Regions from separate parts of the Homo sapiens genome. Here region 2 is linked to region 1. The links come from fine-mapping of genetic effects on plasma protein levels. A gene starts in region 1. The other region holds a variant in brackets. All regions are shown on one strand. Distances are from middle to middle. Region 1 holds the start of SH3BP1 (SH3 domain binding protein 1). Region 2 overlaps SH3BP1 (SH3 domain binding protein 1).

Region 1 (8,193 bases):
CCCTCCACCCTGCCTGAGCACCAGGCCAGCCCCTTGGGGCAGGGGAGGAGGGAACCCAGGAGGGCCACAGTCCCAGATGAGAGTGGAAACAAGATGACAAGGCGTGGTGGGGGTGACATTTCCCTGAGAGCATGGATGGAGCCCCTCTCCATCTGGCGTGCCCTTTCCTCTTCCCAGAAGCCACTTGACTGGGCAGGAAGGAATGACCAAGTCCTACTGCAGACTGGGAAACTAAGATGCAGGGAGGGCAGGGAGCTTGCCCCAGGTCACACAGGTGGAGGGAGAATGGGAGCGGGAGCTCTTTCCCCTGTCCCAGGGTATATATGGCTGACCTAGCCACCGCTGAGTTCAAACGCTCTATGGCTCCCAATTTCCTTGCCTTGGCCACACTGAATTGTCAACTGATTCCAAAACATGGCCCCACACTCCCACCCCATCTGGAGTTACGGGGAATGCCTGCTCTGGGATCAGAGACCAGGGTTCAAACCTCAGTTCTGCCACTTACTAGCTATGTGACCTTGGACAAGTGACTTTATCTCTGAGCCTCCAGTTCCTCATGTGTAAAGCAATGCCTGCCCCTAGGGTTGTGCCAGTGTTCCATGAGACAGTGCACTCATATGTTAGTAACAAGCTGGCGGTTATCAGCCAATAAACGCTGCCTCTTGATTAATAAACGTGTATCCCTCAAAAGCCAGCTCAATTGCTACCTCCTTCAGGAAACCCTCTGAGGCCGCCCCATTGACAGCCTGCTCTTGCGCACTGATTGGACAGAGAAGTTCAGGTGCTGTCAGAAGCCTGGCCTTGGCTTATGGGAACTGGTGCACAGGGAAGTGGGGTAAAGGTGATGGGGAAGGTATAGGGCCTCTTGAGTGCAGTGCCAGAGGGGCCTTGGAACAGAGCAGTCTCCATGCCCTTGGTGCCAGACACTCAGACTGGCAAGGAAACCCCAGCCCCGACCTTGCTTCCCCATTGGATGGAAGTCTCCTGCTCAGGCCCCTCCTTCCCGGGACCCCCCACTCACCACCCGCTTGTCCATGTCTGCCCCGCTCTGGCCCTGCAGACAGGCCTGCAGCCGCTTGTGGATGTTGTGGGCTGCCCGCTTGGCCGGCTCCAGCCGCTGTTCTACCTGGGAAGGAGGTATGGAGGTTAAGGATCAAGAGAGGCTGTCTCCCCCTGAGCAGGAAACTTTCTCCTGTCCCCTGGGGACCCCATGGCCAACAGCTTGAGGAATGACTCAACCCAGGCCCCTACCTGGCGTCCCCGCCCCGGCCCTCTGCTCCGAGACAGCCTGCACAGGCCTGCCTTCCCACCTGCCCGGCCCAGGCACGTACCTGCAGCAGGTCCTCACCCAGGAACTCAGCGGTCTCCGGGGTGCTGCGGGGAGTGGTGGGGGGGGGGGGGAGAGTGCTTCTGCTGAGCCTGCCTGGGTTAGAACGCCCCCTACTTCCCTTCCCCGCAGCAGGGCACCTGGACCCCAGTGCTTCCACTGTCCCTCCCAGCTGAGGCCTGCCCTGGGTGGCCCAGTTGCTTCATCCCAGTCGGAGCACATTCCATGGGGGTGGGAATAGGATACATGGGTTTTTCCTCCTCCACCCAGGGCTGTGTCCTGAGAGAGGGCGGACAGATGAAACTAAAGGGGAGGCTGAGAGACCCACCCGGGGCCCAGCTTTGGGACACAGAAGCCTCTTTTCTGCCCACTCCCAAATCCTCAGCCCACCCCGGGATGAGGAGTATTAGCTGGCCCCAAGAACGGGAAGTGCAGGAGCTCAGACTCCTAGGCACAGTCACACAGCACTCTGGACTACAGCTGTGGGCAGGGGTGCACAGGCCCTTGGCCCCCACCTGGGGACACATGGGGGATGCCAAGGCCCACTGCAAGGTGGTCTGACTGTCCAGGCTATGTAGGCATCTGTGCCAGTGTGAGACTAGAACCAGGTCTCTGGACACCCAGTCCCCTCCCTGGACCCAGAGAATGGGGAACTCCTGAGGCTGGGGGAAGAGGAGCAGAGAAGACAGGCTCTGAGAGGCTCCCCAAACTTCCGGCCTCCGTGCCACCGGCTCAGAGGCTGGGGGTGGGAGCTGGGAGACCTGGGGATATTTCCACCTGAGTCCAGGAAAAGCAGAAACGAGACAGAAGCAGGAGGCCCCTGGGCTGGGGGGAGGGGGAGGGGGAGGGACGCTGCAGGCCAGGGGCAGGCCCCTCCTCCCACCAGGCCAGGACCCATCTCCTCCCCTCGCCCCAGGTCTGTGGCCCTAATCGACCCTCCTCCCTCCCCGGCCCAGCAAGCAGAGGTGGTGAACTGTCCCATTGTCCAGAGGGGACAAGTGAGGTCAGGAGGACCATCCACTTAGAGACTCGTGGAGGCAGAGAAGTCCCAGCGTCCTAGGGCAGAGAGCATTCTCCCGCCTGAAGCCCCCTCCAATCCGGTAAGGGGGGGCATCCCTTCCCCCAAAGGCCACCCTTGCTCCTCCAGCTCTGCCCGAGAGACGGGGGCGGCGTTCAGAGAGGAGGAAGAGAGAGCAGGAGTCTGGCCGCTCAGAGGGTGGCTGCCCAGCTGTCCCCAGCCTCCCCCACCCCCGTCTCCCCCGACCCTTTTACGACCCCTCAAGTCCTGCCGGGGTAAGAGTGGGGCTGGAAGCGGGTGACACTCACCGTCCCAAGCTGCCCGTCTGGGCCAGCTGCCGCATGCGGTGCAGCTGCCTCTTCATCATCTTGGGGGCGAGCTGGGGGCTGCGGGGTCACGGCGGGGGTCGCGGGCCCGGGGAGCCCCCGGTCCAGCCTGCCTCTCCTGCGGCGCGGCTCTTGCCCCGGATGGGTGGGCGGCGCTCTCGCTTCCTGGGCCGCCGCGCGGCTCTTGCTGGCGGCCGGCTCTCTCCTCCCCCGCTCACGACTCCGCCCCCGGCCCCCAGGTCACTCCTCTCTCCAAGTTGGTTTCCTCGCTCTTCCCCGGCTTCCGGGCCCCCGGGCGACCCCCGGCCGGGCCCCCGCTGCTGTGTGTCCGCCGGCCGCGGCCGTCCACAGGTTGTGCCCGGCTCCTCCTCCCCGCAGCGCCCCGCCCAGCCCCGGTGGCGGGAAGCAGGTAAGCCCATTCCTGCCCCTGCGCCCGCAACCCGCCCCAGGCGGGGTGCCTGCCCCACCCGCAGCCTGCAGACCCGAAGTATAAATAACCTTTGCATCCCTCGCAAAGAGGAAAGGGTACCAAGCGAAAGAGGGGTAGGCCTTTCTGACCTGTCCTGGCCTCTCTGGGCCTGCCGCGGATACTGCCTTGCACTCTCTTCCGCAGAGGACCTCTGGCCCCCTGGAACTAAACCCCCCACCACTGGATGACTGGCTGGGAGCTTTGGCTTCCTGGGGCCACGGGCTGCTGTGTGGCCGTGGACAAGCCCCTGGAACTCCGGACTCGCTGTTTCTAATGGTCTGATGGGCCAGCTGTCCTGGGCCTGCCCATTCTGCAGAGTGGACAAGACACCCCTGCCAGCTCCCTTTAAGGGAGGTGCGTGCCACCCCTCAGCCACCAGGAACCCTCCCAGAGCGGTTCGCGACACCCTGTTCTCCACATCTCCTGGCAGTTTGCTCCATCTGTGAAGCCCGTCTCCTCTCATTCCTCCTGGCAAACAGCCTCAGTCCCCCTTCCTTCTTGTAGGGCAATGATGTAGGTGCTGCTCTGACTGCCCCCAAACTCAGTAGTTCTCCTCTTTGGCCCTCCACTCAACACAGAGTTAGGCATACAGTAAGTGCTCCATAACTGCTGGTTTTACAAGATGTGAGCGCCTTTAGGAAACAGTAGGCTCTCCTTACCCTGCACCCCTGTGGCATCAGGAGCCGCAGGCGTGGGGAAGAGGGGAGGGTGTGCCCCAGAGTCCTGCCACACCCTCTGCACTTTGCTTTGTTAGTTTCAGTTTAGTTTGAGACTATTTGAGCCACTACTGTGTGCCGGTGCAGACTGTGTGCCGGTGCAGACTGGGCGCCTCTCAGAGGCAGGACCTTGGCCCCACACATCTCCATACTCCCAGCACCTAGCCCAGGGCCTGGCACACTCACTGGCTGCTTCTCTCCTCCCTAATGAGGCAGGACTCATTGGGGGTGGGAGGAGCTGAGAAGGGAACCCAACAGCTGCCTGCTATGGCCAGAGCCTCCCAGATGGGAGCCCACCTGAGTGTGGAATCCTGGTGGGAAGTTGGGAGGCTCCAAGATCAAAGCTCAGGCCAGGATGAGATGTCAGGCAAGGTTCCCTCCCCCATCTCCCTTTTCCCAACAGGAAGGCTGCTGGCCAGTGACTATGGGTGGCATGGCAAGGGAACCTCAGGTGCCATCCTTCCTGTCCCTCGGGAAGTCTCTGGACTATGTGGTGCCCCTGCTCTGTTCCAGCCAAGCCTCCAGCCCAGACCACACCGGGCCTGGGCTTGTCTGGTTCTGTAGCTGGTCTGAAAGTCCTTGAAGGCAAGGTTTGGCTTACACCTCTGTCTCTCCTAGATTTGCCCAGTCCTGAGCCCCAGCTCCGGCCTGGTGAGGGGTCAGTACACGTGGGTTGTAGCCGCAGCTGTGGTGGAAACTACCTGAGCCATATTATCAGTCTAACTGAGCTCTTGCCCCGCGCTCCTGCCCTGGTCTCCAGACTCCCCTCCAGCCAGACCTAAGGGTCCTGGGCAGGAGAGACACCCTGGGCCTTTGAGTCGGATTCGGGTGGGGCTGCTGTGCCTCCTAGCTGGGTGATGGGTAGATTTTAGGCCCTCCCTTGTCACACCTGGATGTTGAATCATAGAAGGATGGACTCCCCAAAGGTTGGGTTAGGGTTATAGGCTGTTCCTTAGAAGGAATTGTAATCAGAGACTTACGGACTCAGAAGTTTTGATCAGTGGGTGTTGGGATCATGGCCTTTCTAAACTGCAGACACAGAAGGGGTACCTCAGAGCTCCCCAGCCAACCCCTCGTGGGGCCCTTCCCCAATCCAGGGGCCTGTTGGCTTGGGTCATTCTCTACCAGGCTGGTCTTAGCTGGCTCCTGCTAAAGCCTCTGGGACCCGGCAGTGTGCCTGTCACAGTGGCTCAGGCAGCAGGAACAGAGAGAGCTTAAGGGTGTGGAGGAGGCTAGCTGGCCAGGCTGTGGCTGTCATTAGCTGGGTAACCTTAAGTGGGACACTTCACGTCTCTGAACCTCAGCATCCTCCTCAGTAAATTGGAAATAATAGTACCTACCTCACAGAAGCGTTAGGTGAATTAATAGATGCAAGATGCTTATAAAGTGCCTTGCGTTGTTTCTTGTTACCATCATTATTCAGCTTGCCAAGTCAGGAATGGAAAGACCCCTTACCCCCATTCCTGCCCCAACGACCCCTGTGTGTGTCTAGCTGCCTTAGGACAATGGGACTTTTTGTTGTGCTATAGCATATCCTCCAGTGAGGGTGGTATCACTGTCCCCATTTTACAGGTGAATAGCCCAAGGCCCCTGGCCTAAGGTCCCCAGCTGGAAAAGTGGTAGAGGCCAAGTTAGGAAACAGATCTGACAGTCTCCTAAGCCCACGTGGGCTCTCCTGCTGTGCCAGACCCAGACAGCCTTGCCTGGGAGCTCCAGAAATGCTGGCCCTTGGCTCTGCCTTAACCCCTGTGGTTGCTTTGAGGGCCTGGCAGCCTCTGTGCAGATTTGTCTGTGAAAGCCTGGGACAGTCTGGGTAGCATGTGCTAGTAAGGCTTGAGCAGGATGTGGGCAGGGAGGTCAGCAGCTGAGTGGTGGTGGTAACGGGGGTCGGAAGCAGGGGCTGCAGGAGCAGAAACATCCCATTTTAGACACTTTGACAAATTGCCTGTTTGTAGTATCCCTCGGTGCTGCCCTCTGTGTGGACTTCCACCCAGAGCAGCTAGGGGCATAGTGAGATCTCTGGGGCTCTAAAAACTCCCTCACCTCCCTCCCCAAGCCCAAAGGACTTTCCAGGAAATCCTGGGGTGGCCCTAAGGCTGAGAACTCCATTTTAATCCTGATAGCCCTGGAGGAGTGTGTACCCTGAGCCCAGCCCCAGAGGACAGCCCGACAGAGGCTGGGGGGAGGACTTGGGAGGTATGGGGCAATGTGCCATCCTGGTAGACACCTCAAGACTGCTGGCCCAGACTCAGCCCATAATGTGTGACTTCTCTGAGCCTCACTTCCCATTTCACAGGGCATTTCAGAGGCTTAAGATGGGAGGCTATAGGCATCAGGTCCGGGGGCTCCTCTTGCCTGCCTTGCTGGGCTGGTGCCCTGGTTGCAAGGCCCAGAGAGACTGGGGGAGGGGGTATGTCGAGAGACCAGGCAGACCAGGCACAGTAGCTCACCACAACACTTTGGGAGGCTGAGGCAGGTGGATCGCTTGAGCTCAGGAGTTCCAGACCAGCCTGGGCAACCTGGCGAAACTCTATACAAAAAATAAAAATATTAGCCGGGCATGGTGGCACGCGCCTGTGGTCCCAGCTGCTCAGGAGGCTAAGAGGGTAGGATTGCCTGCGCCGAGGAGGTCAGGGCTGCAGGGAGCTGTGTTTACAACACTGCCCTCCAGCCTGGGTGAGAGACCTTACCTCAAACAAACAAACAAAAAAACCAAAAAACTGACTGGGGGCCGGGTGTGGTGGCTCACGCCTGTAATCTCAGCACTTTGGGAGGCCAAGGCAGGTGGATCACCTTAGGTGGGAGTTAGCCTGACCAACATGGAGAAACCCCGTCTCTACTAAAAATACAAACTTAGCAGGATGTGGTGGCGCAGGCCTGTAATCCCAGCTACTCGGGAGGCCGAGGCAGGAGAATCGCTTGAACTCGGGAGGCAGAGGTTGCGGTGAGCCGAGATCGTGCCATTGCACTCCAGCCTGGGCAACAAGAGCGAAACTCCGTAAAAACAACAACAACAAAAAACCGACTAGGCAGGAGCAGGCTCCCAGGCCCTTGCCACTTCTCCTGGCTGCCATAAACAGACGAACAGTGTGATGCGGTTGCTGAAAACCAAAATTAACTGGTGCCTCGGCCAAATCAACAGAAATGGAAGTGGGGCTTCGAGATCTGGGAAGTCCCACTGGTCTTGGCATGGCACTGGGGGTCACCCTTCAAGAGACAGAGCACACGCCTCCCCAGTGCACTGCATCCCAGCCCCTGAGACTGCAGAGCGCAGTGGCCCGGACCTCTGTGCAGCAACACGGTATTTGGGGAAGGACTCCTCCAGGGAGTGGAGGCCCAGGGTCCTTTCCTCTGGTTAGAACCCACCCCAGACTCTCAGACAGATGCAGGGCTTCTGTGGTACCTTATGTCTTTGCTCTCAGGGTGCCACACTGGCTCCCAAGTCCTTGCCAGCTTGTGAACTCTTAGGACAGGGGCTGGCCCAGGGGCTGCTCAGGAAACACTGGCATGACTGACAGGATGGGTGGGTTAAGGACAAGGCAAGGGACAAGGTCCAAAGGCTGAAGGGACCCCACCTTCCCGTCCCCGGAATATCCTGGGTCACTCCAAAGCTGACAGCCTGGCTCCTTTGTCCAAGGACTCCTCAGAGGGACCTTATAGCTCATTGAGTCCCTCTCCCCTTTTCCAGAAAGGAAAGCATCTTCCTCAAAATCACACAGCAAGCCAGTGACCCAGCCAGAACCAGCCCCCAGACTCCCAGCTCACAGTCCCACCTGTTCCCCATGCCAACCTGTACTCCTCCCTGCCATGGCCAGTAATGAAGACTGTGCTGGAGGTGGGACTCTGGCACCCCAAGTGGATGCTGCAGGGGTTATGGTTTCATTTCAGGTAGAAGAAACTTCCAACCGGAGTTATCTTCAGGAGACATCACAAGTGTGGAGGCGAGTCCTGCAGGGTAGGGAAGGGGAACAGGAACGAGGCCACGTGGCTGGGACAGGGTGTCTGGAAGCCTCCAGGGGCCAGCCTCTGTCTGGAGGGCTGTGCCAGGGTGGGAGTCCCACTGTAGGGATCTGATAGGAGGCTCCCGCAGGGTGCAGCTAATGCCTCTTGTCCCCTCAGCAGTAAGGCGGACATGGAGGAGCTCTCAGCCTGCGCTTTCAGTGTGGGCCCAGCAGAGAGGGGCCCCTTGCTTGCTGATGAGTGTTAAAGAGCACACACGCTGGGATGCGGGTGTGCTGGGCAATTCTCCAGCATGTCACAACTATATCTAAGGAGAAGGGTTCAGCGGCCAAGTTCAGATTGGGAAACACTAGATTAGACAAAGTGAAAATGGCTTC
Region 2 (7,658 bases), 16 kb before region 1:
TTAAATGTACAGTTCAATGTCTTGACAAATGCTTTTGAAATCACCGATGTGTAGCAGGACAGATCCTCATGTAAGTGTTTTGGGTGAAGACTGGGCATTTTTTGGTTTGTTGGTTAGTTGGTTTAATTCCAGGGATTCTACCGTGAGCTAGGATAGGGTAGGGAAGCACTGGGCTAGAGGCTGGTAGGCTGTCACTGCAGCACGCCCCGGGAGGGCAGGATCCAGAATGGTCGTGGCCAATTGCCCAGAATAGTAATGGGGTGACCCAGGTTGGCTGGGTCCCTGTCTTAGGGAGGAGGCCTTGTGATCTGGAAGCAACCACAGGTCTTGGGACCTTTGAGGAGCCACTGGTCTGCAGTGTGGGGATGAATGAATTGTGAGCTGTGGTGTCACAGTTTTGAAGTTGTCTGCCAACTTCAGATAAGGCTGTGACCCCCAGGAGCAACTGGAGCTCCAACGACTTGGGAAAAACTGTACCTTGTACCCAACCTTGGAAGCTCAACTAGCTCCTATTCCCCAAGTGCCCTAAGCCTTTTGCTCCTGGCCTTTGCATAGATAGTCTCCTTGGCCTGAATGTTCCTTTTTCCTTTAAAAATTTCACCTTCAGGGCCGGGCTCGGTGGCTCACGCCTGTAATCCCAGCACTTTGGGAGGCTGAGGTGGGCGGATCACGAGGTCAGGAGATCGAGACCATCCTGGCTACGGTGAAACCCCGTCTCTACTAAAAATACAAAAAAAAAAAAAAAAAAAAAGAAAAAAATTAGCTAGGCGTGGTGGCGGGTGCCTGTAGTCCCAGCTACTCGGGAGGCTGAGGCAGGAGAATTGCTTGAACCCAGGAGGCGGAGCTTGCAGCGACCTGAGATCGTGCCAATGCACTCCAGCCTGGGCAACAGAGCGAGACTCCATCTCAAAAAAAAATAAACAAAAAATAAAAAATAAATAAAATAAATAAAAATAAACAAAATTCACCTTCAGGTCAGCTCCTGAAAGACTTCCCTTAAATATCACCTTCTCCAGGAAGCCGTTCTTAACCACCCACCCCATACCATGAGTCTAGGTTATATGGCCACCCCTAACTTGGCTAATATGGGCTCCCAGTGCAATGACACTTGATTTTTTTTGTTTTTGAGACAGGGTCTTACACCGTCACCCAGGCTGGAGTGCAGTGGCATGATCACTGCTCACTGAAGCCTCCAACTCCTGGGCTCAAGCGATCCTCCTGCCTCAGCCTTCCTAGTTGCTGAGACTACAGGCACACGCCACTACACCCAGTTAATTAAAATTTTTTTTTTTGTAGAGACAGGGTCTCACTATGTTGTCCAGGCTGGTCTAGAACTCCTGGGCTCAAGTGATCCTCCTGCCTCAGGCTCCCAGTGCTGGGATTATAGGCATGAGACACCGTGCCTGGCCAGACACTTGATTCTAATGGTTGCTTCTGCCTGTCTGTTTGGGAACTCTTTGGGTGTAGGGTTAAGTCTTGGAGCTAGCTCAGGGCCTGGCACAGAGCAGATTTAGGGAAGGTTTGAGGACAGATCCATCCCTGCTCCTTGGGGAGGCTTCCCAGCCTCCTCCCGGAAGGAGAGTGAGGGGTCCAGGAAACAGTGGGAGCGGTAGGGGCTTCTGTGGGCCAAGGGTGGTGCTTTGGTTTTCAATGGAGAGCAATACCTCTGTGGAGGGAATTGTTATAAAGTTTCACAAATGAGGAAAAGGGATACCAAGAAGTTAAGTAAATTGCCCAGAATGTGAGGGACAAGCCAGGCTTTGGAGTCAGACCTAGGCTCTAATCCCAGGCCCCTGCCTGACTGCCGTGTGACCTTGGCAGGTCACTTCTGTCTGGGCCTCAGTCTCCTCACTGCTAAGAGGTAATGGTATTTCCTGCAGTAGGAGAAGATTAAGTGGAAATCATCCACAGAACAGCACAGCATGTAGTGCAGAGAAAGCTCTAAAAATGTCTGCTGTGATCTCACTTCAGACAGGAAGAAAGGAGGCAAAGAATATGTATTGTTTTCCCCTTTATAAAATTGGCTTCTTTATTTCAAGGACAGAAAATAAAACTATCATTTGGGCAGCTGCTCCAGTTTTGTCCAAAATAATTTATTTACCAGCCTTACAAAAAACATGTCGGCAAGAGAAGAATCAGTCCCGTAGGAGCAGGCAAACCTCTCCTTCCTTCCGGTGGCTCCCCTAGGACCTGCCGGAGAGTGGAGAGTCCGGTGGGGGGGTCCCCAAGCCCAGGGTGGACGAGGAAAAGGTCAGGAAATAGAGGATTGTCCTGAGCCCTCCTGGCCATGGGGGCCGACCCAGTGGGCACTGAGGCACTTGTGGGCAAAGGCTGGAGGCCCATGCCCCTTTGTGGGGGGCGAGAGCTGTCCTGGGAGGGCCAGGTGGGGAGGGAGGGGGTGCTGAGGGCTGCTTAGGGAGAAACCAGCCACTCAGTTGGTCTCTGAGGCAAGGCTCCTGGGGCGGGGCTGAGGGGGGATAGCTGGGGGAGTGGGGACCCCACTGATAGCCTCAGGGGCTCCTCCCTCTGCTGTGGCAGCCCCCAGGTCCACCTGTGCAGGGTTACTCAAAGAGACTGGGCTGGGGGAGGCTGGACCTGGGGAGGCCGGGCTGGGGGAGGCTGGTGAACGCCGGCTTTGGCGCCGGGCAGGCTGAGGGGGTGTGGGGGGTAACGGGGGTGGCACTGTGGGGGCTCGGAGGCTGCTGCCAACCAGACGTCGGGGCAGGGCTTGGGGGGTCCCAGGGCTGCCAGAGCCAGGGGGCAAGGGCGGGGCTGGAGGGGAGGAGCGGGAGCCGGAGACCTGGGGGGGCGGCATGGTGGGCCGGGCTGGCGCCGGGCGCTTGGCTGTTGAGGAAGGAAAGGGTGAGGGAGGCTGAGTGTCCACGTGGCCTGTGGTGAATCCACCAAGCTCCGTGCCCCCTCACAACCTTTGCATCTGCTGTTCCCTCTGCCGGGAACACCGTTTCTGCGGCTGGCTCCTCATCGTCTAGGCCTCTCCTTGTGCCCTTTGCCCCCTTGGAGGCCCTCCCCGAGCACCCTAGTTAGAGTCCCACCCCATGCCCCACCCCAGCTGCTCCGTCACATTTTCCAGATGTATTTTCTTCGCAGGACTTTTTGTTCTCTGAAATTATCTTGCCCATTTATTTTGAATTTTTAAAAGTTCTTAAATTTTGAGACAGGGTCTCGCTGTGTTGTCCAGGCTGGTCTTGAACTCCAGGGCTCAAGCTAGCCTCCTGCCTCGGTCTCTCAAAGTGCTGGGATGACAGGTGTAAGCCACTGTCCCCGGCCTATCTTGTTCATTTTTATTTTACTGTAGACTACCTACCAGCCCTGGTCACGAGGCTCCCAGAGCTGTTCCGCCTATTCCTGGCTGTCCACTGCTCATTGCCTCCACTGAGTGTCAGTCACTCTCTCACCTGGTCAGCTCTGGGCCAAACTGACAGGTGAGTGTGCCAGAGGGGCTCAGAAGGAGGCCCCTGGTTTCTTCCCACCCCTGCCACCTCCTCTCCTTCACTGCCACTGCCTTTTTTCTTTTTTTTTTTTTGAGACAGAGTCTCATTCTTGTCACCCAGGCTGGAGTGCAGTGGCGTGATCTTTGCTCACTGCAGCTTCTGCCTCCCGGGTTCAAGTGATTCTCCTGCCTCAGCCTCCTAAGTATCTGGGATGATAGGCACCCGCAACCATGCCCAGCTAATTTTTGTATTTTTAGTAGAGGTGAGGTTTCACCATGTTGGCCAGGCTGGTCTTGAACTCCTGGCCTCAAGTGATCCACCCGCCTCAGCCTCCCAAAGTGCTGGGTTTACATGTGTGAGCCACTGTGCCCAGCCCCTTCACTGCCCTTTGAAGACTCCCTCCTTCCACTGTAGTCTGTGACCTCTGGGCTTCTGGAGGGACGGGACTCCAGTACCCCAGTACTCACGCCGGCTCCCCCTTAGTGGGCACGTGCTGTGTGCCAGGGCCAGGCACTCTTCCTGCAGCACCACTGCAGGCTCCATGCAGCCCCATAAGGTAAGTGCAGACACTGTCCCATTACACAGAGGAGGAAGGTGAGGCTCAGACAGGTGAACTCACCTGCCCAAGGTCAAATCTAAACCCAGAGTGCCAGGTGGCAAGACCTGGGCTCTTTATCACCTTGACTCCTGGCCTCCCCTGGCTGCCTAAAAAGATAGGAGGACCTGGGACTGCCTGTCCCCTCTCCCCGCCCACCCTCTGTCCCCTCCTCCCCTCCCACAGCCAACTCACTCCTCCGAGCCATGTCCTCCACTGGGGCAGCTGTCTCCGGGGGACTCCTGGTGACCTTGGGGGAGGCTGGTCTGGGAGGCACCTCAGACTCTGTCCTGCAGAGGGAAGGAGAGGATGGGGCAGACTTAGCCACCTCCCAGAAGTCTCATGGAATCCTGAGGAGTCTCCAGCTGCCAGGTGGAGTCCGGATCCTCCCAGCACTCGCTCTCTATCACTCTGTCCCCATGCCACGCACCCCTCCCAGAAGATGCTTCTGGCATTGGTTGGGGTCTGCATCCACTGAGCCCCTGGCTGCTTTGTGACCCTGTGACAGAGTCCATGTTCCTCTAGGGACCAGGAGGGAGCCCCACCTGCCTGGTAGGTAGGGCCAGGATGGGAGGTGGGACATAGGGCCTGACCTCTGCCTCAGCTCAGGGCCTCCATGTGGTTTTTTTTCTTGAGATGGAGTCTCACTCTGTCGCCCAGGCTGGAGTGCAGTGGTGCGATCTTGGCTCACTGCAGCCTCCACCTCCAAAGTTCAAGCAATTATCCTGCCTCAGCCTCTGGAGTAGCTGGGATTATAGGCACACACCACCATGCCCAGATTTTTTTGTTGTTGTTTTTTTGTAGTAGAGACGGGGTTTTGTCATGTTGTTCTTGAACTCCTGGTCTCAAGCGATCTTCTGCCCACCTCGGCCTCCCAAAGTGCTGGGATTACAAGTGTGCGCCACCTAG[G/C]CTTGTTTTTTTTTGTTATTGTTGTTGAGAAGTCTCGCTCTGTCGCTCAGGCTGGAGTGCGATGGCATGATCTTGGCTCACTGTGACCTCCGCCTCCTGGGTTCATGGGATTCTCCTGTCTTGGTCTCCTGAGTAGCTGAGATTACAGGCGTGCGCCACCATGCCCTGCTAATTTTTTGCATTTTTAGTAGAGATGGGGTTTCACCATGTTGGCCAGGCTGGTCTCAAACTCCTGACTTCAAGTGATCCACCTGCTTCAGCCTCCCAAAGTGCTGGGATTACAGGTGTGAGCCACCACACCCGGCCATTTCTTTTTCTTTTTTTTTTTTTTTTTGAGATGGAGTTTCACTCTTGTTGCTCAGGCTGGAGTGCAATGGCACGATCTTGGCTCACTGCAACCTCTGCCTCCCCGGTTCAAGCCATTCTCCTGCCTCAGCCTCCCGAGTAGCTGGGATTACAGGTGCGCACTACCATGCCTGGCTAATTTTTTGCATTTTTAGTAGAGATGGGATTTCACCATGTTTGCCAGGCTGGTCTCAAACTCCAGACCTGACGTGATCTACCTGCCTTGGCTTCCCAAAGTGCTGGGATTACAGGCGTGAGCCACCACACCTGGCCATTTCTTTTTGAGAAAGGATCTCACTCTGTTGCCCAGGCTGAGTGCAATGGCACAATCATTGCTCACTGCAGCCTCGACCTCCTAGGGTCAAGAAATCCTCCCACCACAGCCTTCTGGGTAGCTGGGACCACAGGTGTGCACCACCACACCGACCTCATTTATTTTTTGTAGAGACACAGCCTTGCTATGTTGCCCAATCTGCCTCCAAGTGATCTTTTTTTTTTTTTTTTTGAGACGGAGTCTCGCTCTGTTGCCCAGGTTGGAGTGCAGTGGCGCAATCTTGGCTCACTGCAAGCTCTGCCTCCTGGGTTCACACCATTCTCCTGCCTCAGCCTCCCGAGTAGCTGGGACTACAGGCGCCCACCAACATGCCCAGCTAATTTTTTGTATTTTTAGTAGAGACGGGGTTTCACCGTGTTAGCCAGGATGGTCTCGATCTCGCCTGCCTCGGCCTCCCAAAGTGCTGGGATTACAGGCGTGAGCCACCGTGCCGGGCCACGTGATCTTTATGAGATGCTTTGGCCACTGGAAGCCAGAGAGTGGGTGAGAAGCAGAGGGGGTCCTAGGCTCATTCCTCACTGCCTTCGGGTCTCTGCTTGGTCGTTTCTTCCTTAGCGAGGTCTTTCCTGGCCCCACAGCTAAAGTAGCCCCCACGCTCCCCCTTAACCTGCTCCCCCTCCCTTAGCAGCGCCTCTCCACCTGACACTATAGAGAGAACGCACTGGTGGCTGTGCTTGATGCTGTCTCTCTCTCTCCCTGTGCCCTGAAATGTGAGCATTTGTCTTGCTCATCAGGAAATTCAAGGTGTGAGCCGCAGTGCTCTGTGGTATCCTGAATAGTAGCTGCTTGGTATGGAGGCACCACGGTACCACGAAGCCCTTCCAGATTTAAACGATCAAAGAGAAGACGGTGGCCAAGCACTGTGGCTCATGCCTGTAATCCCAGCACTTTGGGGGACTGAGGCAGGCGGATCGCTTGAGGCCAGGAGTTCAAAACCAGCCTGGCCAACATGGGGTAACCCTGTCTCTACTGAAAATACAAAAATTAGCCGGCTATGGTGGTGCACGCCTGAAGTCACAGCTATTCGGGAGGCTAAGGCAGGAGAATTGCTTGAACCCGGGAGGCTGCAAGTGAGCCAAGATCTCGCCATTGCACTCCAGCCTAAGCAACAGAGTGAACTCCATCTCAGAAAAAAAAAAAAAAAAGAGGCTGGGTGCAGTGGCTTACACTTGTAATCCCAGCACTTTCAGGGGCCAAGGTGGGTGGATCATTTGAGGCCAGGAGTTCAAGACCAGCCTGGCCAACATGGCGAAACCCCATCTCTACTTAAAATACAAAAATTAGACAGGTGTGGTGGCACTCACCTGTAATCCCAGTTACTCGGGAGGCTGAGGCATGAGACTCAGTTGAACCTGGGAGGCACAGGTTGCAGTGAGCCAAGATTGTGCCACTGCACTCTGGCCTGGGCGACAGAGTGAGACTCTGTCTTAAAAAAAAAACAAAACAAAACTGGAAGGTATTTATAGATTCCAAAATGATCATCTCTTGAGTTCCCTAGGACTGGAAACAAAGCCTGGCATATAGTAGGTGCTCAGGAAATTGCTACATGATGAATAGGGCACACATCAGTGGCTGAGACAAATTCCGCCTCTGAGTCTCTGCCCCACCCTCTCCAAACTAGGAGATCCGGTCTTTGGGATGAAAACACTAATAATTACATTTCCAAAAATTCAGCTTCCAGCTCTGAGACATGGCGCCTCAGGCAGGCTGATTGTGGGAGTACCACAGGAGCCATTCAAGCCCCTCAGTCCTCACCTTTCCTTGGTAGCTGCTGAAGCCAAGGCTGGGGCCGGAGCTGGAGCTGGAGCCGGAGCCGGAGCCGGGGTGGTGGCTGGGGTGGGCACGGCAGTGGACGGAAGTTCCTCAGAGGCCAGCCTGTCACTGACTGTGTCCTGGAGGGTAACAGCTGAGAAGAGGCCTGACACGTTGAAGTTGATGTCTGGAGACAGAAGGAGCGGAGACGGCTCTCAGAGACCGCGCCAGGCTCCTCACTCCACTGGCCGGGACCGTTTCCCCTTCCCCT

Evidence for each region. PIP is the posterior inclusion probability: the model's chance that the variant is causal. The UK Biobank Pharma Proteomics Project read protein levels with antibody pairs (Olink). The fine-mapping took linkage between variants from a reference panel, not from the people measured, so its PIPs are less certain.
Region 2: its variant is fine-mapped to the plasma level of the SH3BP1 protein (UK Biobank, PIP above 0.99).

The regions. Positions count from the first base shown.
Region 1 is chr22:37,634,307-37,642,499 of GRCh38, reverse strand. It overlaps SH3BP1 (SH3 domain binding protein 1), which reads right to left and starts at 2,831. Exons shown (of 18, transcript NM_018957.6): 1 at 2,654-2,831; 2 at 1,332-1,374; 3 at 1,022-1,126. The coding sequence starts at 2,712. PDXP-DT (PDXP divergent transcript) reads left to right here. Exons shown (of 6, transcript NR_109952.1): 6 at 1-668. RefSeq lists silencers at 2,614-3,053, 3,084-3,233, 3,864-4,158 and an enhancer at 8,073-8,162.
Region 2 is chr22:37,650,458-37,658,115 of GRCh38, reverse strand. SH3BP1 (SH3 domain binding protein 1) reads right to left here. Exons shown (of 18, transcript NM_018957.6): 16 at 7,391-7,574; 17 at 4,243-4,337; 18 at 1,999-2,844. The coding sequence ends at 2,432. PDXP-DT (PDXP divergent transcript) reads left to right here. Exons shown (of 6, transcript NR_109952.1): 2 at 7,404-7,658. Among named protein-coding and RNA genes, the nearest start is that of PDXP-DT, 4.1 kb to the left of the region's middle. The variant G/C (reference allele first, on the strand shown) is at 4,957.